Homo sapiens: one gene and its partners. The protein of the gene in region 2 purifies or fractionates together with the protein of the main gene of each other region. This does not show direct contact. Each region holds a gene or a part of one and is shown on either strand. Other genes may lie near its edges.

Region 1 (4,647 bases), on a different chromosome or scaffold from region 2:
GTTACCACGGGGGTCCAGGCCAGGGAGGAGCCCACTTATTACTGGGTTCTGGGAGAGGAGGAGGACTCCAAAAAGGGGAATGGGAGGAGAGCTCAGGAAGCTTGGGTCAAACGGGAGATGGGAAAGGTGAGGAGAAGGAGATCAGACACTGAGTGGGAATTGACAGGACATGGGGCTGAGTTGGGAGTGAGGGACCTTAGAGGACTCAGAAACCAAGGAGGAGCTGAGAAGTCGGGAGCTAGGTCTCACTGGAATTCCAGGATGGTGGATGCTATATGGAAATCAGAATATGGGGGTCAGAGAAAGAAGAGGGCGTTTAGAAGTTGGAAGGTTGGAGCTCATAACGTCAGGTCTTTATGCTTGTGATCTAAGGACAACCTGGAGCGCTCATGAGATTGAGGTCGGGATTCTCAGTGGAACATGAGGAGCACAGAGGGATGTGGCAGTGAGGGGAGAGGGGTTGACGGGACTGGGGCCTTGGATCCCCAAAAGAATAGTAACACACATATGGGGAGTTCATGGTATTAGGGATTCATGGATTTGGGGTTTGAGATCCCCACTAGAAGAAATGGAGGGGGTACTCAGAGGGATAAGGTCTGAGGAACTGGAGCCTGGGTTCTGGGGAGGAGCTCAGATAGATGGGAACTGAGGAGAGGGACTTGGAGGTTGGGATTCCCGCAGGAAATGGGTGAAGCAGAGATATGGGTTGCTTATAGGATCTGGGGGCTCTGGCTATTGCCACCTGGGCCTGGAGTGTTGGGGTTAGTTGGGGGCCGAGATCGGAGAATTATAGAGTAAAGGATGAGAGTACTGGGTCAGGGCACTGGATCTGTGGTGGGGCTCAGGGTCCCACAGACCACCAGAGTGTGGGGCTCAGGAGCTGAACGAAGAATAGGGGACCGGAAAGGACTCGAGAGGGGGCAGCGCGGCACTCATTGGTTGAGGGCTGCACTAATGCCCCCGCCCCTTCTCCGTGCTGTCCCCAGCTGTCACCCTCCCATAAGGCTTGTCTCCGGTTGTCACCGACTATCCCTGGGCTGGCACCGCCTGCTGGCAGCATCTTTGCCCTTTGGATGCTCCCATTGGCTGAGACAGCTATCTATTTTCCTGTCCTGTGGCCAAAGTGGGAGAACACGATCATTGGCTGACGGGGCGAATTAATCTCTAGCTTGCCCCGCCTCCTCCCAGCTGTCATTCCTTACTGACCATTTTGGGAGACCTAAAGAATTCTTCAGCTCTTCCTATTGACTGCGGATGCTGTCTGTCACCGCCTAAATAGACATCACTGCCTGTCAATTTGACCTCCACCTGCTCCCCTTTTCATTGGCTCCCTTTTTACCATTCCTATTGGTTAAGAAGCCTCCAGGCCCCACCTCTTACTCGCACAGCCCTGCCTCCTCCTCCGCCCTTCCGCGGTCATTCACCCTTCAGTCATATTCATTGGCCAGGAGGTTCAGACCCCTGCGTTTCTATTGGTTATTTCTTTCGTCCCATCGCCCCCTGCCTTTCCTCGTCCTCTGATTGGTCTTACAGCCCTAGCTTTCTCCGTTTCCTCTTTCCAGATGACCCACCCCTTTTTCGCCTCCAGCCCCGCCCACGATTCCAACGATTGGCAGAAGCCCAGTTCTCTCTCTCCCACTATTCGTCCAAATCCTCTGACTAGGCGGGAGAAAAAAGGAGCGCGATGAGCCAGTCCGCGCGCAGGCGTGGAACGCCGAGACGCTGGCGCGGAGCCGGCTCTGCGGCGTGTGCGCAGGCGCGAGGTCGGCGGCTCGCCCCCAAGCAGGAGGGAGGGGGCGGTGGCGAGAGCGCGCGAGGGGGTGAGAGGGCTCGAGAGAGACCCCGGCGCGCGGCGCCCCCCGACCCCTGCCCCGCCTCTGCGCGCCCAGCGGCCGCTCCGCCCCCGGCGCGCGCCGAGCCGCGCCCTTCGCCCTCTCCCCTTTCTCGGCTGGCCTCGCCGGGAGGCCCGAGGGGCGGCGCCTTCTGCGGCCTCCCCGGCGGGGGGATGTGAGGGGCGGCCCGCGGCCATGGAGACGGGCACGGCGCCCCTGGTGGCCCCGCCGCGCCGTCATGGCGCCCCCGCGGCCCCCTCGCCGCCGCCCCGGGGTTCCCGGGCCGGGCCCGTCGTGGTGGTGGCTCCGGGACCTCCAGTGACTACGGCCACTTCGGCCCCCGTCACCCTGGTGGCCCCCGGGGAGGCGCGGCCCGCCTGGGTCCCGGGGTCGGCCGAGACCTCTGCTCCGGCCCCGGCCCCAGCCCCGGCCCCAGCCCCGGCTGTCACGGGCAGCACGGTGGTGGTGCTGACCCTGGAGGCCTCGCCCGAAGCCCCAAAGCCGCAGCTCCCCTCCGGCCCGGAATCCCCAGAGCCCGCGGCAGTGGCTGGAGTTGAGACATCGAGGGCTCTGGCCGCAGGGGCAGACTCGCCGAAGACAGAGGAGGCTCGACCCTCACCCGCCCCAGGACCAGGGACCCCCACCGGGACCCCTACCAGGACCCCTTCCAGAACGGCTCCTGGTGCCCTGACCGCCAAACCCCCGCTTGCCCCCAAGCCGGGAACCACAGTGGCCTCAGGAGTGACTGCACGGAGTGCATCAGGACAAGTGACAGGTGGGCATGGAGCTGCCGCAGCAACATCAGCATCAGCAGGACAGGCTCCTGAGGACCCCTCAGGCCCTGGCACAGGCCCCTCTGGGACTTGTGAGGCTCCGGTAGCTGTCGTGACCGTGACCCCAGCTCCGGAGCCTGCTGAAAACTCTCAAGACCTGGGCTCCACGTCCAGCCTGGGACCTGGCATCTCTGGGCCTCGAGGGCAGGCCCCGGACACGCTGAGTTACTTGGACTCCGTGAGCCTCATGTCTGGGACCTTGGAGTCCTTGGCGGATGATGTGAGCTCCATGGGCTCAGATTCAGAGATAAACGGGCTGGCCCTGCGCAAGACGGACAAGTATGGCTTCCTTGGGGGCAGCCAGTACTCGGGCAGCCTGTGAGTACCAGTGGGCACCCAGCGGGACCGCCTCGGGGAAGCAAAGGTTGGGGGAGGGCGAAACGAAAACGATACACTTTGCCCAGACTCTGGCAGCCCAGCCTCCTCTGAGGATCCACGGGGTGATCAGCGCGAGCTGCCGTGTCTTGAGCATCCTGAGGTGCCTGTGACATTGGCATGTTAGTGGAGTTTCAGACCAGGGGTCAAGAGGTCTGGGTTTAAGCCTTGCCTTTGATGGGTTGTGTGCCCTTGAGCTAGTGGCTTCCCCATTTCCGTGCCTCAGTTTTTTCCTCTATAAAGTGGATTGAATGAGATGATACCTGAGGTCATCCCTGCTCTTTGATGGGGAACTCCAGCTACAGGCCGGATATTCTGGAGGGTTGGTTGGGCGAGGGTTCTGGTAGAGACCCTTGGTCCCTTAGGGTGGATAGCCTGGGAGGGGTGCAGGCATCTCCCTTCCCCCATAGCCCTAGGTCCCAGGGATGGAGTAGAGAGGTGGGGAAGTCTGGCTGATGGAAGGGAGACTGTGCAGTCAGGATCCCGCTGTGAAACAGGGCAGTCTTGTATCTGCACTGAAGTAAAGGGTGGGAGAGGCCTCTTCCCCATTTCCTCATCTCCCCAGCCGGGCTGACTCTTTCCTAGTTCTCTCCGGGGCCTGAGTCACTCCCGAGGTAGGGGGTGATTGCCTCTGACTTCTTCCTTCCCCCTCTCTGGATCCTGCCCGTTGTTCCTGTGCCCCTTTGACCTGCTGGGCCAGTCAGCCTACAGCATCTCCTGGGCCCCCAGGTGTCAGGCCCCAGGTGCTAAGGATAAAATAGTCCTTTCAAGGAGCCAATCATCTGGAGAGAAAGAAAAGTACTTAAACAGTTGGTTTCAATAGAAGACCTCGGGTTTAGCCTAGAGATCTCCAGAGGGTTTCCTGAGGCACCTAGAGCAGGGAGTCAGCTGAACCTGCTCTGAATCGTGGAGAGTAAGTAGGATTGATTTAGTCTTGGCTATGTGTGCAGGGATCGGGGGAAGCCCTGTGGGAGAGTTTTCCAGGCAGGGTTCATGAGCCAACCAAAATCAGAAAGCCTTTGATTGGGTACCAACATTCAGGGTCTTACATGGGAAAGCAACTGAGGTTTGACCCTGGTGCTTTCTAGGCACAAGGACTCGGTTTATAGATGAAGAAACAATTAGTGCAGTTGAGTGAATTGTCCCCCTCAAATAATCTGGATCTGTGTGACCAGTGGCTCTCTCCTCAATAGCAGGCTGTCCTGAGGAACTCGGGCTGAACTTAGTTTGGGGGAGTCCCTCTTGTGTGCCAGGCACTATGCCGGGTGCTGTTTCTTTGCTTTGTAGCTTTGTCCCTGTAAGATCAGCTTCAATGCCAGAGAACTCTACCTCTTGGGCAAGACTGACTGTAATCCATGTTACTTTCGCAGCGTTCAGTGGCTCGCTGCTGTCCACAGGATGAAGTTCAGGCTCTTTGGCCTGCGCATAGCCTCTCTGGTCACCTTTGCCACCATTCCTCACCGGGTGCTTTGCGCTGTGGTCCTGCTGAACTAGTTGTAGTCCTTTCCCCTTCATATTCAGGCTGTGCACCTGCCAAGGGTGCTCTTCTCCCCTTTCTTTGCCTGCTAAGTTCTACTCATTTCTTCATGGCTTACCTCAGATGTCCC
Region 2 (4,077 bases):
TAGGGTACAATCACAGAGATGACAAGCTAAGCAATAGGATTGCTGAGACCTTGGAGGAAGGGAGAAGAACAGATGTCCAAAATTCCCACATTTAGGGAGAGGAAAGAGGAACTGAAAAGGACACTGAGAGGATGCAGAAAGAGAGGTAGGAAGTGAAGGGGGTTATTTTGGAGCCGCGGAAGTTAAGGGAATCCATAATATTAACAAGGGAGTAATCAGTGATGTTGGATGCCTCCTAGAGAGAGGCCACTGAATCTGGATATTATAGTGCTACCAATAATTTTTGAGAGTTCAATTTCATGAGAATACTACAGACGGAAACTGTATTTAATCGTACTTAAATCCTTTGTGTTTTTAAGATGTTTTGTTTTGACCATTAGGTGAAGGTAACTCGTGCTGATGGCAACCAACTGACTCTTGAAGAAAGAAGAAATAATGTAGTCATAACAGTGACACAGAGAAACTATACTGAGTACTGGAGCGGATCTAACAGTGGAAATCAGAAAATGGAAGCTGTTCAGAAAATAAATTATACTGTCCCCCAAAGTGGAACTTTTAAGATTGAATTCCCAATCCTGGAGGATTCCAGTGAGCTACAGTTGAAGGTGCCGTCTGTTTCCCATCATTGTGTCACTGCAACAACACCATTACAGTTGTAATCTTGTGGTAGGCACTCAACCTGTCAGAACTGAAAGTACATAGGAAGTGGACACATGTTTCTGTTTCACAAAATGGAGGAGAGTGGTAAAAGTAATTTAATGACAGTGGCTGAAGGTTAGACTAAATTTTTCCTTGTAAGTTCATTTTGAAGAGCACAGTAAAATATAGCAATGTGAAGATATGATGGAGAATTTCCTCAAATCCCCAGTCTAGTGTTTGAGGTCAGTCATTTGAAATTTTATTTTGGCAGGAATTGAAATGAAAGATAAATATATATACATATATATATATACACACATATATATGTATATGTATATGTGTGTGTGTATATATATATATATATATTCCTTTCCTGTGTTTTAAAGCTATCAGTTTCTTTACAGTATAAGCTATAAAATGATGAAAATCCAATGTCTGGTGAATGTATTTTTCTTGCATTAAAAAAAAGTGAAGATGAATTTGGTCTTTAATAATTGTTCAGCAGGTAACATCTTTTCTCAAGGTGTTACTAAAGATGAACATTTACAGCTCCTTTTTCTTTTATTATAGGCCTATTTCCTTGGTAGTAAAAGTAGCATGGCAGTTCATAGTCTGTTTAAGTCTCCTAGTAAGACATACATCCAACTAAAAACAAGAGATGAAAATATAAAGGTAATGCTTACAATTCACTTGAGAATTACAATATAATTGGACTATCTTGCTTTTGATATGTACATATTAATTAAGGTTTTTTTCTAGGTGGGATCGCCTTTTGAGTTGGTGGTTAGTGGCAACAAACGATTGAAGGAGTTAAGCTATATGGTAATCTCTTATAGAATCTAAATTTATGATCTATTATAGAATCATCTTTTTATTCACTTTTAAGTTCTGGGGTACATGTGCAGGTTTGTTATATAGCTAAACTCATGTCATGGGGGTTTGTTGTACAGATTATTTCATCACCCAGGTATTAATCCTAGTACCCATTAGTTATTTTTCCTGATCCTCTCCCTCCTCCTACCCTCCACCCTCCCATAGGACCCAGTGTCGGTTGTTCCCCTCTATGTGTCCATGTGTTCTCATCATTTAGTGTGCACTTATAAGTGAGAATATGTGGTATTTGGTTTTCTGTTCCTGCATTAGTTTGCTAAGGATAGTGGCCTCCAGCTCCATCCATCTTCCTGCAAAGGACATGATTTTATTCTTTTTTATAGCTGCATAGTATTCCGTAGTATATGTGCACCACGTTTTCTTTATCCAGTCCACCTTTGATGGGCATTTAGGTTGAGAATCATCTTAAATGGTGTCTACCTTATATCTACACTAAACTTATTAATTTTTATAACTCAGCCTCATACCTTTTTAGCCTGTCGTTTTAACATTGCAATCAAATAAAAAACCTTTTTTATTTCTTCACCTATGTTTGCATTTCCAATTTAAAATAGATAACTAAACCTTGTTTTATGTTTAAAATTTAAATTTCTATTTGATAAGCAATATATATTCATTATAGAAAATTATACAATGTAAGAAAAATGAAAAAGAAAATAAAAAGTGCTATCCATGACCATGTAATTTTGCTAATTCAGCTTTCCCAATGGTGCCCTGTATTCCTTGCAATCAAAAATAGATTCTTGACTATGAAGCTACTGTTGCTCCAATCAGTATTACTTTAATCTTACCATTTTCTTTTTCTCAGTGTATGCTCTCTGTGTTTGTCAGAGAGGTTTTCCTGCATTCCAAAAGACTTTGAAGCTGGTTTAATTCAAGAATTTGTGTGTATGCATACAATTATGATTAATGTAGCTTCAGATGAGATCCTACTAGGTTTGGCAATAAATTAAACCCATCTACTGTTCTTTTCAGGTAGTATCCAGGGGACAGTTGGTGGCTGTAGGAAAACAAAATTCAACAATGTTCTCTTTAACACCAGAAAATTCTTGGACTCCAAAAGCCTGTGTAATTGTGTATTATATTGAAGATGATGGGGAAATTATAAGTGATGTTCTAAAAATTCCTGTTCAGCTTGTTTTTAAAAATAAGGTAAGATTTAAGGTAATGATGTTTAAAAGAAAACTTTATATTAGTGAAGTCTGAGAAATGTAATATTTCTTTAGAAAAGTATCATTAAGCCAAACTGGTTAGAAATTTATATTATTCTATTTCTAGAACTATGGTTAAACTTTTCAATATTTAGCATTACATATATATTTTCACTTGTGGAGTTATTGGGGATTGATAGTCTATTTGTAAACTATGGTTCTGGTCTTTAAGACTTTAACTCAGATCATGAAGCTGTTTCAGAATTTTTCAAATGGTTGAATTAATATTGCTCAGGAGTGAAATTCCAGTGGTAACATAGAATTCGTGTGGTGTTGATATTGCAGTGATATAAAGGGTGTGGGAAGGAGTGAGGCCATCTAGGATAATACGTAGAAGCAGAGCTGGGCTTTCATTAATCTATTTAATTAGCTGGAAACTAGCCCAGGGCAACTTTTCAATGAGCTTGATTACCCTGCATGTGAGGATCTGTGTGGAGTCTGGTCTCCAAGTGCACCAGTGCCTTTTATAGCCTAATGTGACCAGCTTGAGTAGGAAATCCCTTTGGACCCCAGCTCTGAAAAGAAACCTGATTGCATCATCTCATGTATATAAGAATGAGCCATTGCTGTCACTAACAACTGCTGCCCTCTCCATCCTCTTATGTAAAAAATTATTCCTTTAAATAGTGATTTGCAGAGTATGGTTCTTCTATTTCTTTTTCCTTTATTTGTTAAAATATTTGAGAAGTAACAGTAGTGATCTGTACTTTCTTTTTTAAAATTTGTATTTATTTATTTTTTGAGACTAGGTTATAAGACTGGCTAATTTTTGTATTTTCGGTAGAGAGAGGGTTTTGCCATGTTGCTCAGGTTGGTCTCTAACTCCTGGGCTCAGGAGATCCACCTGCCTCAGCCTCTCAAGGTGCCGGGATTACAGACATGAGCCACTGCGCCAGGCCTGTACTTTAGTTTTGTTGAGAATTATTACTCTCACTTTGATTGTTAAAATATAATACAAACTTCTATTTTTTTAGCTTATGAAAAGAGTTCTTAAAAAGATAACACTGTGTTTTGTTAGTGGTAGAGCACAATTTTTGACTTCTAGTGATCCTAGTAATTGCCTGACAAAGGTGAATTTTAAAGTAGAAGTTATGGAGGCTTAAACATCTCAGAAAGCAAGACCAGGTTCTAAAGCTGGTTACAGTGTAAAAGATCACGGACTTTGAGGAAGCAGAGTATATGAATAGCATACTTTCAAGTAATTTCTTAGCTATAAGAGAAAGGAATTAGTTTCAGTTCCATTTGCAACTATATATCTTTCTCTTATTTTTATGTGATAATCATCACATTTATAAAGAAACAACATAATTAGAAATGGAATATGTCTAAGCAAGAG
Region 3 (4,077 bases), on a different chromosome or scaffold from region 2:
GCCTTACAGGTGGTAAGAGATATGTGTCCAAATATAAGTAATATTTGCTAATTCCAGAATGTAAGTTCTAGAAAGCTGATGGAAGATCACATTGGGCTTGGGTGATCTGGAAAAGCCTCTTGCAAGAGGAAGTACTTGAGGTGGGTCTTTTTTTTTTTTTTTTTTTTTTTTTGAGATGGAGTCTTGCTCTGTCACCCAGGCTGGAGTGCAGTGGCACGATCTTGACTCACTGCAACCTTGCAACCTCCACCTCCCAGGTCAAGCAATTCTCCTGCCTCAGCCTCCCAAGTAGCTGAGACTACAGGCATCCACCACCACACCCCGCTAATTTTTGTATTTTTTGTAGAGATGGGGGTTTCACCATGTTGGCCAGGCTGGTCTTGAACTCCTGACCTCAAGTGATCCACCCACCTTAGCCTCCCAAAGTGTTGGGATTACAGGCGTGAGCCACTGCGCCCGGCTGGTGGGTCTTGAGATATCAAGACTTGAAGACTTTCTCCAGGACTACTGGAGAAAAATCATGTGCAAAAGCAGGACTATGTAGAGGATCTTTGATTCATGAAGGTAAATGGCATGGTTTGGGTGGTGGGTGCATGTAATTCAGTAGTGAGGGGTGTGTCTGGAGCAGTATATGGAGACAAAAATCATAGAGAACCCTGAGTGCTAGTCTTTACTCTTCTAACCTCGTTGCACTGCTGTCTCCCTGATTTGCTTCTCTGAGCACGTACGATGCCCAGCTCTGGGAAAGGCCTTCTAGGATGGGAGACTTCTGGCCTCCATGCTGAGCTAGCTTTCCTGGATCCAGTTTGGGCCAACTGGAGTGGATTGATCAGATGCTAAGTTTTGTTCTCAGATCTTGTGATTTTCTGGGATGAGAGTGAATGGCTGGCAGAGCAATTCCAAGAACTTTTCCCAGTGATGAAAATTCCCTTTTTCTTTACTGATGCTGGCCAATTTGCTTTGGCAGTAGCATTTTAAACAACCATTTGGTGAAAGCTCCAATTTCAGGGTCAGAGAATTTCATCACTCTTTTCTTTATATTACTAAGAATTCTCTGAGTTGTGTATTGGGATATGTGTGTGCATGTATGTCTGTGTGTGCGTGTGTGTGTGTGTGGTGCCTATGTTAGTAGAATTATTCCAACTAAGTCTGGTTCTAGTTTTATCTTTATTTGCAGGGTAAAAGTCATTAAATATTTCTAGGCCTTTTTTGTTGTTCAAAGGTGGAAGAATCTCCCCTATATCTTACTGTGTGTTGACCATAAGCCAAATTATTTGAGAATAACAGGATGTTAATTATGAGGAGGTATTATAGCTATCTATCATTTTGACAGAAGGTGTAATATTGAGGTAAAATTTTAAGTCTGTCTCCCTGCCACCTAATTCTTGGAACATCTTGACTCGTGAGACCAGCCAGAGTTTTATTTGGGGGCACCACCAATGTTTATGCTTCTTGTTACTTTTCCTAGTCTGTCTGGGCTTGTGTGTAATTAGTAAATGAAGTTAGTACATTGCTGTCAGGTGTTGGCTGACCTATATAAGATAAATTTATATGCAAGACATTGTTGTCACTGCCATTGTTATAATACCTATTGTGTGGTATTTTTCCACATGTTGGAGGTGAATGTCTTTATGGAGGAAAATGCCTCCAAGGCCATAGATGATATTTCTATGCTGACGTAGGTCAGGGCAGAAACTGGATATCTTTCCGATTATCATCACACACTGAGTGGAATTGAAGCCTTTGTCATCCACATTGGGAGCTAAACCAGGATTCTGTGGCTGGCCTCAGCCCTGGGATATGCCCTCGTTTTGTTTTTGTAAGATATTCATTGCATCTGCAGTTATTATTTGAAGACCCTGCTATGTGCATTGCACTCTTCTAGGTGGAAACTTGTTCTGAGAGAAACCTAAACTCAAAAATGTTAGAAATGTTTTAGTTCAAGATAGTTATTTTACTAATCAAGAAATGACTCAGAAGTGTGGCATGACTGACTTGTGACTGCATGGCTGGTTGCTGGCAAAAGCTAGTTCTGGCAAAACCCACATAGGAACCTGGTAATGATACAAGATGATTGATAGGTAATTAAGTTTCTAAAGCATGATCTAAACTAGAAGTGCTTTGGGATGTCAGACAACAGAGGAAATCAGTGTAGATTAAAGTCTTTGGGGAAGGTTCTGAAGAGAAGTGGGGGTTGGCTTGGGCCTCTAGAGATGGGTAGGACCTGAACAGTCAAAGATAAGAAAATGGCATTTCTGGTGGGGAAAGGAGTGCCCACTCAAAGGGCTAGAAGAGGGAAACAGCTAGTGTGGTCAGGCATGGTGAATTGGCCAGGCTGCAGCAGTGGAAGAAGCGGTCTGGGGCCAGACTGTAGCAAACCTTGGCTTGCTGAGGAGTGAATTTTTTTGGCATTGGTGAGGAGTATTTGAAGCTTCATAGCTGAACACTCTCTTGTTCTGAAGACAACAAGATTGTGGTGTTAGAAGAAGTGGGTGGGAAGTCCCTTCCCAGGCACCTGGTGGTTTCTGAGGGGATAGTTCCTTCTGAAGGATGTTTGGGGCAGACGGGAGTGCTGAAATACACTGGGAAGGAGCTTGTCGCTGTCCAGAGTGCTGACCTGACCTGAGATATTTTTCTCTTCAGTGATGCTGCACTGGAAAGTAACGCCGGGGAATGCTTACAACCAGCCAAGGGGATCTCGAGAATGATTCTGCCTAGGACTAGGCAGCATGTGGGCTTTTTGTCAGTAAAATAGTTACAGTATCTGACTTTATGGTCCTTGTGATGAAAGCAAAAGTGTGGAAAGACTGTGTGTCCACGTATGCAGGCTAAGATGGCCCACTTTGTAGCCTTGTAAGTTTTGCCTTAGAACTTTTGGGTTTACATGAGAATTCCAGCACACTGCTTCTTTCATTATGAAAATGCACACCCTCTATTCAGCATCCCACAGAACACCTAAAGCCTCCCCAACAAACCAGGGGAGAGCAGCAGAACTTCCCAGAACACCGTACTCATTACTTCAAATGAAACATCTAAATGCTTTATATTAGTGCTGTCCAATAGAACTTTCTTTGATGATGGAAATGTTCTGTATCTGCACAGTCTAACATAATTAAGCCACCAATTACATGAGCACTTGAAATGTGGCTAATATGACTGAAGAATTGAATTTTGAATTACATTAAATTTATTTATGTAATTTATATTAGACTGCACAGCTCTATAGAGTCAGAATCTTTGACCTTTGCCACTTACCTCTCCTTATTGATCCTCATACCTAAGCCTCTCTGACTTAGAGTAAAGTGGACTTTTGAGTGGGGGTAAGTTTGACCAATTGTTGGAGAAAGCCCCATGCTGAATCCAAACTGAAGTCTGTGTCTGGCTGTGAGTTTTGCCCTGACTTTCTTGTTTTCATAATGAGAAAAACCATCCATGATGCCCTGCAAGTTTTCCATTCAAAAGCCGAGGGAAGGCTCCTTGGATTCTGTCTGGGGTCTCAGGGACCTGATCTAAGACTTTTCGGAGCCTGGAACGGGAAAGCGATGTAGTGTTTATGGCCCTGAAAAGCTGGCTGTGGGGTGAGGTGGGGTGGGGTACAAATAATGTGCTGTGGTGTCAGATGTTTGCAGGCATCTCAGCAGAGAAAGGTTCCCGGTCCTGATCCATCTCCCACTGCAACTCTATGTATCTTTACAGTCATCCCGTTTATCTGGTATAGTGAACATGGCCCAGGGTGGGGGTACAGGTGAGCCTTTTTCTGTTTTGTTTTTGTTTTTCTGAGCCATTTTTGCCCCAAGGAAGAGTGAGTGTTAGAAGTATCAAAGGGTGATAAATGCTTACAAATGCCAAGCAAGAGGTAAGTAATAATAATCTGTCAAAAGACTGGAGCAGAAAATTTCCATGGTGTTGGCGCATGCCAGCCTCCATTGGCCTGCCTAACCTTACCATGAACATGCTTGATTTCCTGTGTCTCTGTTCTTAGGCTTGCTATGTATAAGTCTGATTTCCTAAACCGGGATGCATGCTTTTTGAAGGTATTTCTTATTGTCTTCTTGTTTTCTCCAATAGAATCTCAAT
Region 4 (4,077 bases), on a different chromosome or scaffold from region 2:
AGGTTTTTAAACTCTCCTCCCCTTCTTCCCTTTTCTCTCCCTCTCCCTCTCCATTTCATCCAGGAATTTAATGTTCACATGTATTTCCCTCAAACTTTCTTTATTAATACACTATCATGTCTCTGGCCTGTTCATTTATCCTTTTGTCATGGAAACTTCCCTTCCTGCCCTGACCAAGTTATAGTAGTTCTCATTCCAATATGCTGTCAGAAGATGCTGGACATCATCATTAACATCACCTGTATCTGTCTGCCTGGATCCATTGCTCCTAAGCACACACCATGATTCTGTCAGCAAATGAAAAAATGGTATTTCCTCTGCCTGAAAGTGCATTGCATCATCCTCCATCTACCATTCTCACCTTTATCCAGCTAAATCTTCCTAATCCTTCAATATTTATTTTAGCAAGCATTCTTCTGAAAGGTTTTCAGAAGACTTTCCTTGATTTTCCAGGCTATGCTAAGTGACTCTCCACTATGATCTCATGGTGATGAATGAGCTCTTATAGTGAAAGTCAAATCACACCACTCCTCTGCTCAAGATAATTCAAAGGCCCCCTATTTTACTCAGAGTGAACATCAAAACTTTTATAATGGCCTAATGTGCCCTACAGAATCTGCCCCCTTTTCCTCAGTATCCTCATTTTTTTTACTACTCTCTTCTTTTCTCTAAGCTTAAGCATGCTACCCCATTAGTGCCATGGCAATAGCTGGGATGCTTTCCCTAGATAGCCACATGACTAACTCCCTTGTCTCCTTCAAACCTTTGCACAAATGTCCCTTTATCACTGAGGCCTATTAAGCCACCCTATTTTAAAATGCAATCTGCATCTCTCCTCCCTACCTGCAGATTCCTAATCTTCTTTTCTTTGCTCCATTTTTATAGCACTTATTCCCTTCTATCAAACTACATATTTTTATGACTATTGTTTATTGTCTGTTTCTCCTTATGAGAATGTAAGCTCCACAGGGAAAGATATTTTTATCTGTTTTGTTCACTTGAATCCTCCAGGTGCCTACACTGATGACTGGAACTTAATAGGTGCCCAGTAAATGTGTTTGAAGGAATGAGCCCTGATTATATTGTGCTACAATTTCTTCCTTGTCTGCCTACCCACCACCAAACTGTGTACTTTCTGAAGGCAGGGGATTTTACTATTATGTCTATTTACAATATCTTAGCACATTTCCTCATAATAGTGGGTTCATAATAAATGTTTGCTAAGTGCATGTATTCATCTCTGACCTCCCCAATCCGTAGTTTTGCAGGGTTTGTGATGACACCATGTTAAATCAGAATACAAATGCAAAAATGTTGTTTTCTTAGTAGGGAAGCATCATTATAAACTATCACAGTATCTGGGATCTGCCGAGATGAGAACTCCAATACGGATCAATATAGTGAATATTTCTCCTGCAGAGTTTCTTCAAAGGTTAAAAAATCCCCAGAGTCCATTTGGCCTTTTCCCCTTCCTGTACCTATACGTGAAACATTTATTTTAATAAGCTAGAAACTAAAGGGAAGACTGAGAATTGTAGAGCTTGAAAAATAGTATCTTGCCTTCTGTGACTTTTCTTTTTGTTTCCTTTCTCAGAGCTCTTCCTGCCATGATGCAGTGGGTCCGCACGCAGAAGCCAGGAGAGAGTGGCATCAATATTGTCACTGCCGATTTTGTAGAACTTGGTGACTTTATCAGCACTGTCATAAAGCTCAACTATGTCTTTGATGAAGGAGAAGCCAACACTTGATAGCACTACTTGGAGTTTCCATGAATAAGATGGAGAAAGCTCATTGTATTAGGGCATACTATCTGTAAACACTCTGATCTTCCTATTCCACTGAGTCTCTGAAGGGAATAGGGCTGGTAGTGGGTGGGAAAAGGGGAAAAACTGTTTCTTCAGTGATTACAATCATACTCTTCATTACTATAAATATTTCATTTCCCATTTGATGAGCAAAATCTACTTCTAGTGTTAGGAATAAAAAAAAAAGACCAGTAACTTTGTTTTTCAAAATTAGTCTTTGTAACATAGAATTCATGAGTGTTTACTTGATTAGGTTCTCTATTTCCAGCCTATGACTCCTACGCTGTCTATACCCTGCAACCTTTCTGCTCCCTCTCTTGCTCGCTCTTTTTAATCAGATGCTGTATGGGAATCAAAACAATTGAATGCCCAACATTTTGTGTATTACATTGTTGTCTTAAAACTTACTAGTTTTGTGGGACTTGTTATAATGCTCTATAGTCATCCACAGTTGGGCAATCATAGCTAATTTTTGGTCATAGAAAATCTGCATCAAATCAGTTTCCATGCATCAGTAATATTGAAGGTCATAATCAGTGATTTTTGTTATATGAAAATAATAGTGTTTCACAGTATTTCTATTTAAGGCAGCTATAAATATAGGAGAAAAATGTTTTTGGAGAGCTGTGAATGCCAATTTCAGAGGGAAAAATGGTTGAGGGGTGAAAGAGATGTATGGCATTTTAATTTGGCAATCTCTTAAATAATATTGCCCTGCAAGTACCCAGTAAATGGTAAGGTACAAGTGTGTTAAAATTGAAAACTCTGAAAATAACTCTTTAAAAAGCCCTCTTAATGATGCTCTTGATGAAAGAAAAAGACAGAAGGAAGGAAGGAAGGAAGGAAGGAAGGAAGGAAGGAAGGAAGGAAGGAAAGGAAGAAAGGAAGGGAGGGAGGAAGGGAGGGAAGAAGGGAGGGAAGGACAGAAGGAAGGACGGGAGGAAGGAAGGAAGGGAGGAAGGAAGGAAGGAAGAGAGGGAGGGAGGGAGGAAGAGAGGGAGGGAGGGAGGAAGAGAGGAAGGAAGAAGAAAAAGACTGCAAGCTTTCCTGCCAATTTGGGATTTTCAAATATTTAATTCTAAATTCCAGATTTTAAGGAAGATTTTTCAAGAAACTGCAAGTTTTTGACTTGAAGGAAAGAAAGAGGAAGGCTGGTAGAAGCAGTTAGAGCAATGTGTTTGAAATTATGTCCATGAAATCACAGGGATCTCTGAAATATCTTTAGGAAACTTGAAATTTATGAGGTCTGAATGGACTTGTTTAAAATTGGCTCTGACTCCTCACTTCTGAGTTTCATCCTATCCGAGGGATGAGATTAAGGCAGAGGCAAAAGTTTCACACAAAGTTTCTGCAACCTAACGTTTAATAGTCCGGGTCTACAGGGAAGAACAATGACACAGCTTGAGCGTTACTTCCTCCTTCGTGTCATTGTGATATTTGACAACTCTAAAAAATAAAAAAAAAAAACTTAGAGCACAATAATCCTTGCCTATGTACTTCACAGGAATATTGTGAGGTGTTTATAAAATTATAAAATTTGATGAAATTCTTACAATTATTAATTATTTTATTTTCATGTTTAGAAATAATCACACCCCAATAGTTTCCTAGGATAATACAGTCCATGCAAAGTAGGGTCATAGAGAAATAAAAGCATGCCCTCAGCTTTTAATGAACTTAAATGTAGCACATATGGCTTAATCTCTTAGACTTAGATAAGGGAGTTCAATTCAAAACCATATATGTCAAGACCACAAATAATCAAGAGTTGATTTCAAGATTATAAATACTCATGATCAGAAAATAGTACTTATTAGCAATTAAAGGGAGGAAAAGAAATTGTTTATACTGAAGAGAATGTTTATGAGGAGTGTGTATGTACCTGTGGTATACCAAATAGCATACATGTACACACAAAAATGTGTGTATACATTTGGGTTGTGTGTATACATCTTGCCATATACAATATACAAACATATGCCCATTCCTGTGATAGCATACAAATTCAAACATACAGAAACACACACAGATATGGACACAGTACAATTCTTCTTTTCAAATGAAGACATTGATAATATTAAATAATTTAATTTTAAGACTGAAACCCTTAATATTGTGTGAAAAAGAGTAATAAAACCTTTGAAAGTAGAGTAGATGATCACATCAAAGTATTTTTGTAAAAGAATTCTAGTGTAGGACTTAATTATTTTTAAAATATATTTCTTCTCTTCTTTCCATTTTCCCTTCCCTTGTAGTTTTATTATCTTTCTGT
Region 5 (4,077 bases), on a different chromosome or scaffold from region 2:
ACTCTCTGCTGTTTGTCTTTCTAGGCACCCAATAACTATAGAAGTCCCATCTCTACCAGTCAACCTACCAATCAATCCATGGATGATACAAGAGAGGATATTTATGTCAACTATCCAACCTTCTCTCGCAGACCAAAGACTAGAGTTTAAGCTTATTCTTGACATGAGTGCATTAGTAATGACTCTTATGTACTCATGCATGGATCTTTATGCAATTTTTTTCCACTACCCAAGGTCTACCTTAGATACTAGTTGTCTGAATTGAGTTACTTTGATAGGAAAAATACTTCATTACCTAAAATCATTTTTCATAGAACTGTTTCAGAAAACCTGACTCTAACTGGTTTATATACAAAAGAAAACTTACTGTATCATATAACAGAATGATCCAGGGGAGATTAAGCTTTGGGCAAGGGCTATTTACCAGGGCTTAAATGTTGTGTCTAGAATTAAGTATGGGCATAAACTGGCTTCTGAATCCCTTTCCAGAGTGTTGGATCCATTTCCCTGGTCTTGGCCTCACTCTCATGCAGGCTTTCCTCTTGTGTTGGCAAGATGGCTGCCAACTCTTGGCAATTCATACATCCTTGTTTCTGTCTGGTAGAGAGTTTGCTTCTCAAATGGAGCAAACAAATTTGATTATTTTTTCATTGTTAAATAGGCAACATGACCAGAAAGGATGGAATGGCTTAAGTAAACTAAGGGTTCACTTCTAGAGCTGAGAAGCAGGGTCAAAGCACAATACTGGGCAATTCAGAGCATGGTTAGAAGAGGAAAGGGGAGTCTCAAAGCTGGAGAGTTTACCAACAAATATTGACTGCAGTGATTAACCAAGACATTTTTGTTAACTAAAAAGTGAAATATGGGATGGATTCTAGAAATGGGGTATCTCTGTCCATACTTCTAGAATCCACTCTATCAGCATAGTCCAGAAGAATACCTGGCAGTAGAAGAAATGAATATTCAAGAGGAAGATAAATGCGAGAGGGCAATCCTTTACTATTCTCATATTTATTTATCTCTCATTCTGTATAGAATTCTTGCCGCCATCCCAGGTCTAGCCTTAGGAGCAAATGTAGTAGATAGTCGAATAATAAATAACTTAATGTTTTGGACATATTTTGTCTACTTTTGAGAATTATTTTTAATATGTAAATTCTCTCAAAAGGGTCAGGCACCTAGTTATTATTTTTTAATGATTATGTGAAAGTTGAATATAATATACCACTAAAAGTGACAGTTGAAAGTGGTGGCATAGGACGGTAGGGTAGAAATTTGGGAGGGAAAAAAGAAATTGGGAGGGTACAGGCAACAGGAGAAAGGAATCAAACCACAGAAAAATACAAAGGGAAACTTCTGCTTCACTATTCAGACAAAGACAGCCCTAATGACATCACCAACAGTCAAAGCAATTAGAGACCATACCTAATATTGTTTAAATTCTAGATGTAGGCTAACAATGAAAAGTATTTGCCAAACTGAATAAAACTGTCATGGTTACCTTGAAAGGACAATGGTTATTGTTAAATATAGTGATCATTCATGTCTAAAAGATTCATTATTTATCTCTAAAGATTTCTAAAGACCACCATCTAGAAAAGATTCATTATGAAGGCTGTATTTAAATATCAAAGTTGTGGACTTCATGATAATCTTAAATAAAGCAAATCCAAATTCTCCTGTTGCCTAGACAGATTCTAAGATGTAATTTACACTTTTAAGCTAATTAGTGAGTATTTTATGATTTTAGCCTTAAACACCATGTATGCCAAATAATGCACTTGTTTTGTGAATTACAGAAATGGTAAGTGCCCACATTTCTGTGAATTATAAAATTTGTGAGTTTCTTTTAACCCTTTTCAGGAGTGAAAAAATAAAAACGACCATTTCCTGGTTGTGCTTAAGTATATGCAAGAAGGGTAAACTCTCATTTTTATTATGTTTGCTTAAAGATCTTTTTATACCTGGATTCATGAAATGTTTCCACAAATATATTAGTGTAACAAACTTGAAAGGCAGTTTACAAGAAAGCACTCTACTATCAGATCAATCAAAGATTCTGTGAGTGAATTTATTGGTTTGCATGGTGAAGCAAGCTTAGCATCAATTAAAAGGTAAATAATTTCTTTTCTGAATGGTAAAGACAATCAAAATATTACTTTCTGGAAAACTCCAATAACCAAATTCTCAATGATTAGTGTATGTGAGCAGGAAAACATTTTTACAGTTGTAGTATGGGGAAATATAAATCCAATTTTAAGAGAGAAAATTATGACTGGGTGTGGAAGGGACAGTATAGTCAGATACCATTGTCATGGTGGTTTTTACTGGGAACTTCATGAAAGACTTTTGTAGCAAACCACTGCAGTATTGCAAAGCCTCCAGAACATTTGGAACTTGTCTCTTTTTCCTTGTGTGTGTTTGTGTTTTTGGTCTCTCATTCAAAATATTGATGAGAACTATTTACTCTGTCCTTTCTTCTCTATATATTCTTCCTCTACAGAGTGTAGGGTTTTTTCAGGAATTTGGAGCCATCTGAAGTCCTCCCAAAAATTCTCTGACGTCTTCTGATGCTCCTGTTATACCCTCAGGGGTAATGCTTGTGAAATTCCATTCATTCATTTTCTTTCTCTGGACATCTTTACTTACCAAAGCACTTTCATTGTCATCTTTTTAACATCATTCTTAATTCGTGATAGTTTTGGGACTCTCCCTAGTGTATGTTTCTCCCCCTCTACTCTTTTGCACCTATGATTCTGATTGTTACTAAGAAAGCAGATGAAAAACAGATCCACAGAATAAACGATCAGAATTCCAGTAAATTCTATTTTAAATACAGATACTTTTTACAAGTTGCTGCTTTGGAAGCAAAATGCTTCTTAAGTTTTACATATATATATATATATATACATATATATATACACATATAATTTATATCGATGGATAATACATTAAGAATCTATGCTTCCTTTGAATGCCATTAATATTTATGTTAAAGTAACCAATGAAAGGAAATTACTTTGTTATAATAAGATAGGAAGACTTGTTAATGGAGTACACAGTTTTGTCAGGGAAAGAACACATCTTATTGAACTATGATGACTATGCATTGACTATATTATTATAAGAGATACCTTCAAACTTTATTTAAAGAACTTTAGGTATAATATGTTGAGAAAATAAAATAGAAATTTCATTTACTTGTAATCATGCTTAAAATGGGAGGCAGGTAGGTGAAGATATAATTTTTAGTAAAAACTCCAATTTATGTTTTAAGTAATTCAGTGTATTACTAAAATACTATATATATAAACTTAAAATACATGGGTTATCAATTTAAAAGACAAAGTAAGTAAAAATACTTTTAGTAGGCATTCGTGGATTGTGAACATCCAAGTTATATTGGTTTGTATAGAATGGCATTAAGTAAAAATTACAGCTGTATAACAGTAGTTTTCTAAATTGAGAGAGTCCACATTGTAATTAGAGATCACTGTGACCAAAATGCTTCTCCTTGATTTATAATGATGTACTGTATTTTGTACTGCTTATATGAAATTTCAGCAAGATTGACGATATTATAAAGATGCTTATAAAGTGTAAGTGGAGACGCTAAATTGTGAGTACAAAGTTTCTTTTTCACAACAGTGATAAGAAAATATCTTTAAAAAATATAAGACAATATAAACATGTCATCATTAGTTTAGCTACTATTAAAATGTAACATCTAGAAAGTACTGATCTCCACCTTCAGACTTCTGTATAAGTATATTTTTTCACTGATCTGTTCATTAGAGTTCTTCCAGCCAAGACTCTGGGCTCTTAAAACATGTATCTGAAAACTAAAAACAAGTTAATTTTTTTAAAAGCTTCTCTATTTCTAGTGATTCAATAGGTAGAAAAATAGCTTCTAGAATTAACTGCAATGCTTTCTAAGGAAATTTTATAAATCCTCAAGGTCGGTTTACACATATTTTTCCAGATTCAGAGCACTAACTATCTTGTAAGATGTAAGAAAAGGTCCATTTGGAAGTATGAGTAATAAATGTCTGGGATAATTCTGGTTTATTTCGTATT
Region 6 (4,077 bases), on a different chromosome or scaffold from region 2:
GATCATAGCTCACTGTAACCTTGAACTCCTGGGTTCAAGCAATCCTCCCACCTCAGCCTACCTAGTAGCTGGGACTATAGGTGCAAGCCGCTGTGCCTGGCTATTTGTCTTTTTATTGTTGACCTGTAAGAGTTTATGAGATTTTGCATTTGAGAGAGAATACCAGTGCCTGATCAAAATTGGGCCTGCATTATAAAAGCAAGATCAAAGAGCCCTGGGTGAGAAATGGTGTTTGGCTTCAAGTTCTGGACCTGTTGGTGACCACCTGGGCAACCTTGATTAGTTTCTTGACCTCTTTGCGATTCAGTGTTTTCATCTATTAATACATTTTGTGACTGCGGTGGCAGTTGAGGTGCATTGTAATTCTATAGGAAAGATGCCTGTCCTGTACGTACTGACAGAATTTGGAGACAGGAGGGTCTGAGTAGTGGCCCAAGGTTGCACCTGCCTGCTAGATATGTTGAGGGTCCAGTCACCTCTACTGAGGGCTTCTTTTTTTTTTTTTTTTGAAATGGAGTCTCGCTCTGTTACCTAGGCTGGAGTGCAGTGGTGCAGTCTCGGCTCACTGCAAGCTCCGCCTCCCAGGTTCACGCCATTCTGCCTCAGCCTCCCGAGTAGCTGGGACTACAGGCGCCCGCCACTGTGCCCGGCTAAGTTTTCTTTTTGTATTTTTAGTAGAGACGGGGTTTCACCGTGGTCTCGATCTCCTGACCTCGTGATCCGCCTGCCTCGGCCTCCCAAAGTGCTGAGATTACAGGCGTGAGCCATGTGCCTGGTCCCCTACTGAGGGCTTCTGAGGTGCGCTGACTTTTCCTGACCCTCCTGTTGGTGCTGTGTTTGCATGACTCTTCCCTATTCCTGTCTCTCAGGCTTGAAATTGTCCTGTTTTTTATTACAGATGCCAGAAAAATCCACACTGCCCCTGCCCGAACCATGTTCCTGCTGCGTCCCCTGCCCATTCTGTTGGTGACAGGCGGCGGGTATGCAGGGTACCGGCAGTATGAGAAGTACAGGGAGCGAGAGCTGGAGAAGCTGGGATTGGAGATTCCACCCAAACTTGCTGGTCACTGGGAGGTAGGAATGAGGTGGAACTGCCTTGGGTTCTCGTCCAGCAAACTTTGTCTGTCACTTTTCCAGTTGTTCCAAAGTTGAAATGTTTGAACAAGTCAAATATGCTTTCTTGGAACTCATGTCTCCAGTAGGTTTTGGCCAGATACAGGAGTTATAACTTTGGTGTCAAGTCAAGCTTGTCTTCTGTTGCCAGACCTTACCCTGGTCTCCCCAAGGGTTCTGAGTAGAAATTTCTTGCTGTTGAAGTCTCAGAGTGTATGTCTTGAATTGGTGCTGACATCCTGGCTGTTCTGCTATTCTTGCCCTTGTTAGTCAGAAGAGGGCTGAAACTATTGAGCTTTTGTGATGTGGATTAGTTCTCACCAGGAACCAGACAGAAATAATCAAATTCCTTTGTCATTATTGCTCAAAATGCTTCCTTCCATCATAGTCACACGATAGGGGCAGCCTGCATTGTTACGGAATGCACGATACGTAATGAAACATCTTGTTCATCTGTGCTTCCCATGTCCCAGGATGATTCCTGACTTAGAGGAGACATTCAGTAAATTGTGAAACTGAATATAAAGGTGTAAGTTTAACAATTGCCTTTTTTTTGCAGCCATAATTTAACAAATAAAAAATCTGAAATATCAAAGGACCAGTAATAGGTCTTAATATTCTGGGCAAAAGAGGGGGTGACAGTTGAGGCTTTGTGATATCTGGAATGCAGTGGTGATCCACTCCATTTTGCTAATCCAGATCAGCTGAATCTATTCTAATAGGACATACGGTGACTGGGGCATTAGGATGCTGAAGGCAAGTCTCAACCATGCTCCGCAGTAGCTGTGTGAACTGGGACATGTCACTTTCTGTCTGGTCTTGTGTCTTTAACAGTAAAACAGCAGGTTGGGTTCGAACATGACTCTGAGATTCCATCCAGCTCTAACAGTTTATCTAGGAGTATTTGCTGCCATTGGCATTACATGCTACATTATAGGTTTCCTTCCAAAATCCTTTTTTGGACTTTAATTTTGACCATTTTCTTCCAATAGAATCTAGTATACAGACTTCACTTGATTTCTAACAGTCCTGTAAAACCGTGACTTAGTCAACTGGCCATACAGATCCAGCTATGGGAGTTACCCTAAGAGATACCTGTCTGCTCTTGCCCTGTATGTCCATGTGCCTACCCTTTGGCCTGTTCGTACGCCTTGGGCTTTGTAATAACCTACCTTAAACAAAAAAAAAAGTTTTCCGGTACTATATCACAAATTCCTTTTGGTGAAGGGTAATTATGTAGTAGGTGAGTCACACTTTCAAAGTATGCTGCCCTCTGTTCCCTGTGGCGTTGCTGGTTTCCCCTGTAAACATCATTTTCCATTAGATTAGTAGATTAGTAAAGTACTTGTAAAGTGTAGGTAGCACGTGACTGTGACTGCATGACCCCCCTCAAGTGTTAAACCCAAGCTGACATCTTTCTGACCTTGGGGATTTTTGAGGCTGACTCACCCTGTGATGAGCTTGCATGCTTTCAAGAAATTCCCACACACTTCAAAGGTTTCCCAAAAGAATATAAATTTGGAAGAAACCTGCCACTTCCAAAATCATAAAAGACCAACGCCAGTAGTTTTTTAGTATCTGCTGTTTATGTAATTGGAGTTATTGCCATACATAGTTTCAGACCTGGAAGATGGTTGTAAAGAGGACAGGGTTGATTAACTCATAAGTCCCAGGGCCTGGAAAGTGACAGGACACTGGAGTACAGTGGCCTAATGCAGTGTGAGATCTCAAAGCACCTATTGGTAAAGAACTGGGCTTAAGTTAGATACTCTTCTTGATTGAATAAAATGGTCACAGAACCACTCCTTGATGTTCTTTTTCTTTTTTTGTAGATATGAGGTCTTGCTCTGTTGCCCAGGCTGGTCTCAAACTCCTGGGCTCAAGCGACCCTCCTGCCTCAGCCTCCCAAAGTGCTGGGATTACAGGTGTGAGCCACTGTACCGGCCACTCCTGGATTTTCAAGTGGGACTCCAACACTTCATTTTATGAGGGGGAAATGGTCTGGACTTGGAGTTGACATTGGAGTTTGAGTATCCCTTATCCAAAATGCTTGGGACTGGAAGTGTTTTGGATTTTTTTTTGGATTTTTCAATATTTGTATATATATATATACTGAGATAACTTGGGGATGTGACCCAAGTCTGAACACAAAATTTATTTATTTTATTTTATTTGTTTTGTTTTTCTTTTCTTTTTTTTTTTTTTTAGATGGAGTCTCACTCTGTTGCCCAGGCTGGAAGGCAATGGCGCAATCTTGGCTCACTGCAACCTCCGCCTCCCCGGTTCAAGCGTCTCCCACCTCAGCCTTCCCAGTAGATGGGATTACAGGCACCTGCCGTTATGCCCAGCTAATTTTTATATTTTTGTAGAGACAGGGTTTCACTGGCCGGGCGCGGTGGCTCATGTCTATAATCCCAGCACTTTGGGAGGCTGAGGCGGGTGGATCACCTGAGGTCAGGAGTTCGAGACAAGCCTGGCCAACATGGTGAAACCCCGCCTCTACTAAAACTAAAAAAAAAAAAAGAGACAGGGTTTCACCATGTTGGCCAGGCTGCTCTCGAACTCCTGACCTCAGGTGATCCGCCCACCTCGGCCTCCCAAAGTGTGTGGATTATAGGTGTGCGCCACTGCGCCCGGCCAATTTATTTATTTATTTGAGGCAGGGCCTTGCTCTGTCACCTAGGGCTGGAGTACAGTGGCATGATCACGGCTCACTGCATCCCTGACCTCCTAGGCTCAAGCCATCCTCCCACCTCAGCCTTCTGGAGTAGCTGGGAATATAAGCGTGTACCATCCTACCTGGCTAATTTGTTTGAATTTTTGTGGAAACAGGGGTCTCATTTATGTTTTAGATATACCTTCTACACATAGCCTGCGGGTAACTTTATATAATACTTTAAATAATTTTCTTCATGAAACAAAGTTTTTTTCTTTTTTTTTTGAGACGGAGTCTCACTCTGTCAC
Region 7 (4,077 bases), on a different chromosome or scaffold from region 2:
ATAGCCCATGGGTTTATCATTGTGCCACATTCTTTTTAAACACCTCATACTTTTTTTATTGAATAATTTCTACATTTTGGATCTAGTCTTTCACAGGCTCTGAAATTTTTCAGATGGCCTTAATTGAACTAACATAATACATTATTTTTGAATGCTATCATAGGGAATATTAGGTGGAAAGCTGTTTAATAGTGTTATTTTCAACACAACTATTGTGGGTTTTGCTGTTTTTAGATATGGCCGGAACACACTCATTCAGTTCGAAGACTTTGGAAATCATAATGCATTCAGGTTCTTGAGAAAGTACCGAGAAAAATATTGTACTTTCAATGATGATATTCAAGGTAAAGCAAAAAAACTTCAGGGTTTTGATTCCTACTTTTTAAACATTTTTAATGTGCCCATTTTTTATTTGTAAAAATCTTTGTTTTTCTTACAGGGACAGCTGCAGTAGCTCTAGCAGGTCTTCTTGCAGCACAAAAAGTTATTAGTAAACCAATCTCCGAACACAAAATCTTATTCCTTGGAGCAGGAGAGGTAAGTTTTGAAGGCTTTTTGAAACTTAAGCCTATCCTCTCTTATAGAATTAGAAAATGGGCAGAATATTGATGTTTATGAAAGAGCATAGTGAGCCTGTAATTTTGTTGAGGTAGAGGATATGAAATCAAGAGTTCTGCTGTAAAACATGTAATTTAAAATATGTTTCGAGAGAATATCACGAAGAATTTTTGTTTGATTTGTAAGGGAAAAATAAACCAAATATTTCTTATGGCATATAATCTTCATATATAAAGTAATTCAAGCATTGCATCGTACTCTAGTATATATTAAAATTTATGTTTTGTTGAACAGGCTGCTCTTGGAATTGCAAATCTTATAGTTATGTCTATGGTAGAAAATGGCCTGTCAGAACAAGAGGCACAAAAGAAAATCTGGATGTTTGACAAGTATGGTTTATTAGTTAAGGTAAGGTATTTAAAATTTGGAGAAGCAAAAGAGTGTATTATATTTTTAGTTGGATTTTTAAAATATTATTCCTTAAAATCTTGTTTCTCATTGGAGTCTCCAAATTATACCAATTGGGACCTTCCACTCTCTTTTCAACAGATGTCCCTAGTCTTGTTGTCTTTTACAAAGACTTCTGCTTCATATTGAATTAATAATCTCTATGTTGGCATCAGACTTACTCTTTCTTGCTTTGTTGTCTTGCTCTTAAGAGATCAAATGGCCATTGTACAAGTATGATCGTGTTTGACACTCCTAAAACTAGGTTTTTAGTAGGAACTGAGAACTTCCTAATTAAATTGCAGTATTGCAGTAGTTTTGATATTTGAGCAGAAATTCTTTTAATTTTATTATTATTTATTTTTTTTGAGATGAAGTCTCTCTCTGTCACCCAGGCTGGAGTGCAGTGGTGCGATGTCACCTCGCTGCAACTTCTGCCTCCTGGGTTCAAGCAATTCTCCTGCCTGAGCCTCCCGAGGCTACCGTGCCTGGCCGTGAGCAGAAATTCTTAACCCTTTGGAGATCATAATCCCCTGAAGAAATCTAATAAAAATCTGTGGACCCTATCCCCAGGAAAAAAGCATGTGCTCCTGAAACCAATTTATGGATAATAAAGAGCTTATCTCCCAGATTAACTTAGTACCTTTGGGCCTGACTACCTTTGTTAGCATTGATTACCATTTTCACTAGCTTAAGAATGTCATATATCTTCTGTGTAACACATTGAATATAAGTAAACTGTTCCATAGTTAAACCAATCCAGTACACAATGCTGTTATATTTTTGTATGTACACATTAAAATATAATGGTATAGCTGTCGCTTGGCATTTATGTCTGTGGAGCAAGCTATCTAAATGTACTTTGTTCCAGTTCTAAAATCTTTTCTTGTTAATTAGAACCAGTATTCTATTAGTACAAAAAATAAAATGAAAAGTTAAAGTATGTGAATGAAAAATCTTGAGTGCTCAAACTACATGTAATTTAAAATGTAATAGTAGTTATATACCAGACATTGTTATAAGACTTTACATGTATTATCTCCTTTAATCATCTCAAAAAATCCTGTGAAGTTTTACAAATGAAGAAACAGTTTAAAAGGTCGAGGGAGTTTTCCAAAGTCATCAGCTTATAAGTGACGGAGGTAGGATTCAAAACCAAGTATCCTGACTGCGAAGCCTGTGCTCTGAATAATTAAACTGTGCTGCCTCCCAAAGAGGCTGTAACTACCATATTTACTAGTATGTAAGGCACAAGGATAAAACATCACATATTTAGAAGGCTATTGGGGGATGTATGTTTTGACTAGTACACAGTTAGTTTGGTACTTCTTTTTGTAATGTTGGTTTTCATCAAATATGTTGTGATTCTTTAGCATATTGGTAGGTCAGGTCTAACACAGTATTGGTAGCTACAATGTGTTTACTTAGCACAAAGTGAGAACCCTGTCCATCTCCATATTCATCATCAGATTATATATTTCTTTTCCAGTGTGCAGGTAGCTTGGCCTATGGGCATTAGGCTTCCAGTGTCTCCTGGTGATCCTAAACACTGCCCTTCATTTTGAAACTTTGAAAACAGTGGCTTCTTATGTCACTGTTTGCTCAGCCTGGTTTTCTCAGCCGATTGATGATAGTGTCCTGCTTTACTAACCCCTGCAGTTTCTTATCTGGAGTTATCTTGGAGTTCTGATGGAAATACACTTTTTCAGAAGTCTTCTTTTTTACCAAAATAAGAATATGAGTTCTCAGTTGGTTTTTGCATTCAGTATGTTTTTGTCTGCCTTAAATCTTTGAGAAATTCTTCATTGTTCTAGTCTGTCAGTGGTATCTCTTCTGGCTTTGTGGCATTACTACAAATTTAACTTTTATGGTTTTTGACCTGGGATTTGGAAAGGAAAGCATGTTTCTTCATTCAGCCATCTTTAACCAGAATTCCCTGTTCCTCTTGTTTCTGAACTCTTGGTAGTGCAAGTCCATGGTGTCTGTCTGCAATTCTGAAATCCTAAAGGCTTTGAAATTCCAAAATTTTTTCCAAAATTTATTTTTGTGACCAATCTGATTGCCTTGAATTTACCTAGAAGCGAAACCTGACTCAAACTAATAAGAAGCTCTTTGTAATCTTAACCTTTTGTACTTGATGTGACTATTCATAAGTTTGTTCAGTTGTGGAGTATCTGTTGGGAGGGAGAATATGTAATATTTGATATACGCCATATTGTATTTCTAAAATATGAAAAATTCTCAGCCAGGAGTGGTGGCTCATGCATGTGGTGGCTCAGCTTCCCACTTTGGGAAGCTGAGGTGGACGGATCACTTGAGCCCAGGAGTTTGAGACCAGCCTGGGCAAGATGGCAAAACCCCATCTCTACAAAAAAATCATCCGGGCATGGTGGTGTGTGCCCATAGTTCCAGCTACTCTGGAGGCTGAGGTGGGAGGATCACCTGAGCCCGGGGAGGTAGAGGCTGCCACTGCACTCAAGTCTGGGCGACAGAGTGATACCCCATTTCAAAATAAATAAATCAAATTAAATTAAATATGAAAATTTCTTAATTCCAAAACTCATCTACCCCAGATAAAGGACTGTAGGCTTTTGTGCCACATTGGACTTAGGAAGACCTCATAGTGTAAATGCATTTTTGAGAGGAACTAGAAAGTTTCTAGGAATAATGGTAGATTTGATTTTTGTTTTATATTTGAGTTTATGGACATGATGAAGATAGAGTTGGAAGGTATGGGTTGAAGAGGAAAGTAAATGAAAATGAAAAGACATTTCTATTGTAGAAACAATGTGTAACTCATAATGATGTCTTTTTATTTCATCTTTAATATGCATTGACTAAAAAAATACTGTATTTTATCTCAAAATTTAGGGACGGAAAGCAAAAATAGATAGTTATCAGGAACCATTTACTCACTCAGCCCCAGAGAGCATACCTGATACTTTTGAAGATGCAGTGAATATACTGAAGCCTTCAACTATAATTGGTAGGTAAAGTTTTTCTGATAAATAATTTTACTCCCTAACTGTATGTTGCCAGTCATCATTACCATGTAGGATTACTAAAAATGAA

What was found.
Region 1: the proteins of CD109 (region 2) and TBC1D10B fractionate together in Homo sapiens (co-fractionation; one large-scale study listed by BioGRID). This does not show direct contact.
Region 3: the proteins of CD109 (region 2) and NFASC fractionate together in Homo sapiens (co-fractionation; one large-scale study listed by BioGRID). This does not show direct contact.
Region 4: the proteins of CD109 (region 2) and PLCXD3 purify together in Homo sapiens (affinity purification with mass spectrometry; one large-scale study listed by BioGRID and IntAct). This does not show direct contact.
Region 5: the proteins of CD109 (region 2) and CD226 purify together in Homo sapiens (co-immunoprecipitation; one large-scale study listed by IntAct). This does not show direct contact.
Region 6: the proteins of CD109 (region 2) and PISD purify together in Homo sapiens (co-immunoprecipitation; one large-scale study listed by IntAct). This does not show direct contact.
Region 7: the proteins of CD109 (region 2) and ME2 fractionate together in Homo sapiens (co-fractionation; one large-scale study listed by BioGRID). This does not show direct contact.

Annotation. Positions count from the first base shown.
Region 1 is NC_000016.10:30,367,564-30,372,210, reverse strand, and holds the start of TBC1D10B (TBC1 domain family member 10B), read left to right. Parts: upstream 1-1,716; 5' UTR 1,717-2,027; coding exon 2,028-2,983; intron 2,984-4,647. UniProt on the Homo sapiens protein: Acts as a GTPase-activating protein for RAB3A, RAB22A, RAB27A, and RAB35. Does not act on RAB2A and RAB6A.
Region 2 is NC_000006.12:73,765,550-73,769,626, forward strand, and holds part of CD109 (CD109 antigen isoform 1 preproprotein), read left to right. Parts: intron 1-380; coding exon 381-605; intron 606-1,209; coding exon 1,210-1,311; intron 1,312-1,398; coding exon 1,399-1,461; intron 1,462-2,505; coding exon 2,506-2,682; intron 2,683-4,077. UniProt on the Homo sapiens protein: Modulates negatively TGFB1 signaling in keratinocytes.
Region 3 is NC_000001.11:204,835,067-204,839,143, forward strand, and holds part of NFASC (neurofascin isoform 1 precursor), read left to right. Parts: intron 1-4,077. UniProt on the Homo sapiens protein: Cell adhesion, ankyrin-binding protein which may be involved in neurite extension, axonal guidance, synaptogenesis, myelination and neuron-glial cell interactions.
Region 4 is NC_000005.10:41,311,288-41,315,364, reverse strand, and holds part of PLCXD3 (PI-PLC X domain-containing protein 3), read left to right. Parts: intron 1-1,594; coding exon 1,595-1,748; 3' UTR 1,749-4,077.
Region 5 is NC_000018.10:69,860,387-69,864,463, reverse strand, and holds part of CD226 (CD226 antigen isoform a precursor), read left to right. Parts: intron 1-24; coding exon 25-150; 3' UTR 151-4,077.
Region 6 is NC_000022.11:31,645,098-31,649,174, reverse strand, and holds part of PISD (phosphatidylserine decarboxylase proenzyme, mitochondrial), read left to right. Parts: intron 1-898; coding exon 899-1,074; intron 1,075-4,077. UniProt on the Homo sapiens protein: Catalyzes the formation of phosphatidylethanolamine (PtdEtn) from phosphatidylserine (PtdSer). Plays a central role in phospholipid metabolism and in the interorganelle trafficking of phosphatidylserine.
Region 7 is NC_000018.10:50,920,222-50,924,298, forward strand, and holds part of ME2 (NAD-dependent malic enzyme, mitochondrial isoform 1 precursor), read left to right. Parts: intron 1-234; coding exon 235-344; intron 345-439; coding exon 440-537; intron 538-852; coding exon 853-966; intron 967-3,876; coding exon 3,877-3,991; intron 3,992-4,077.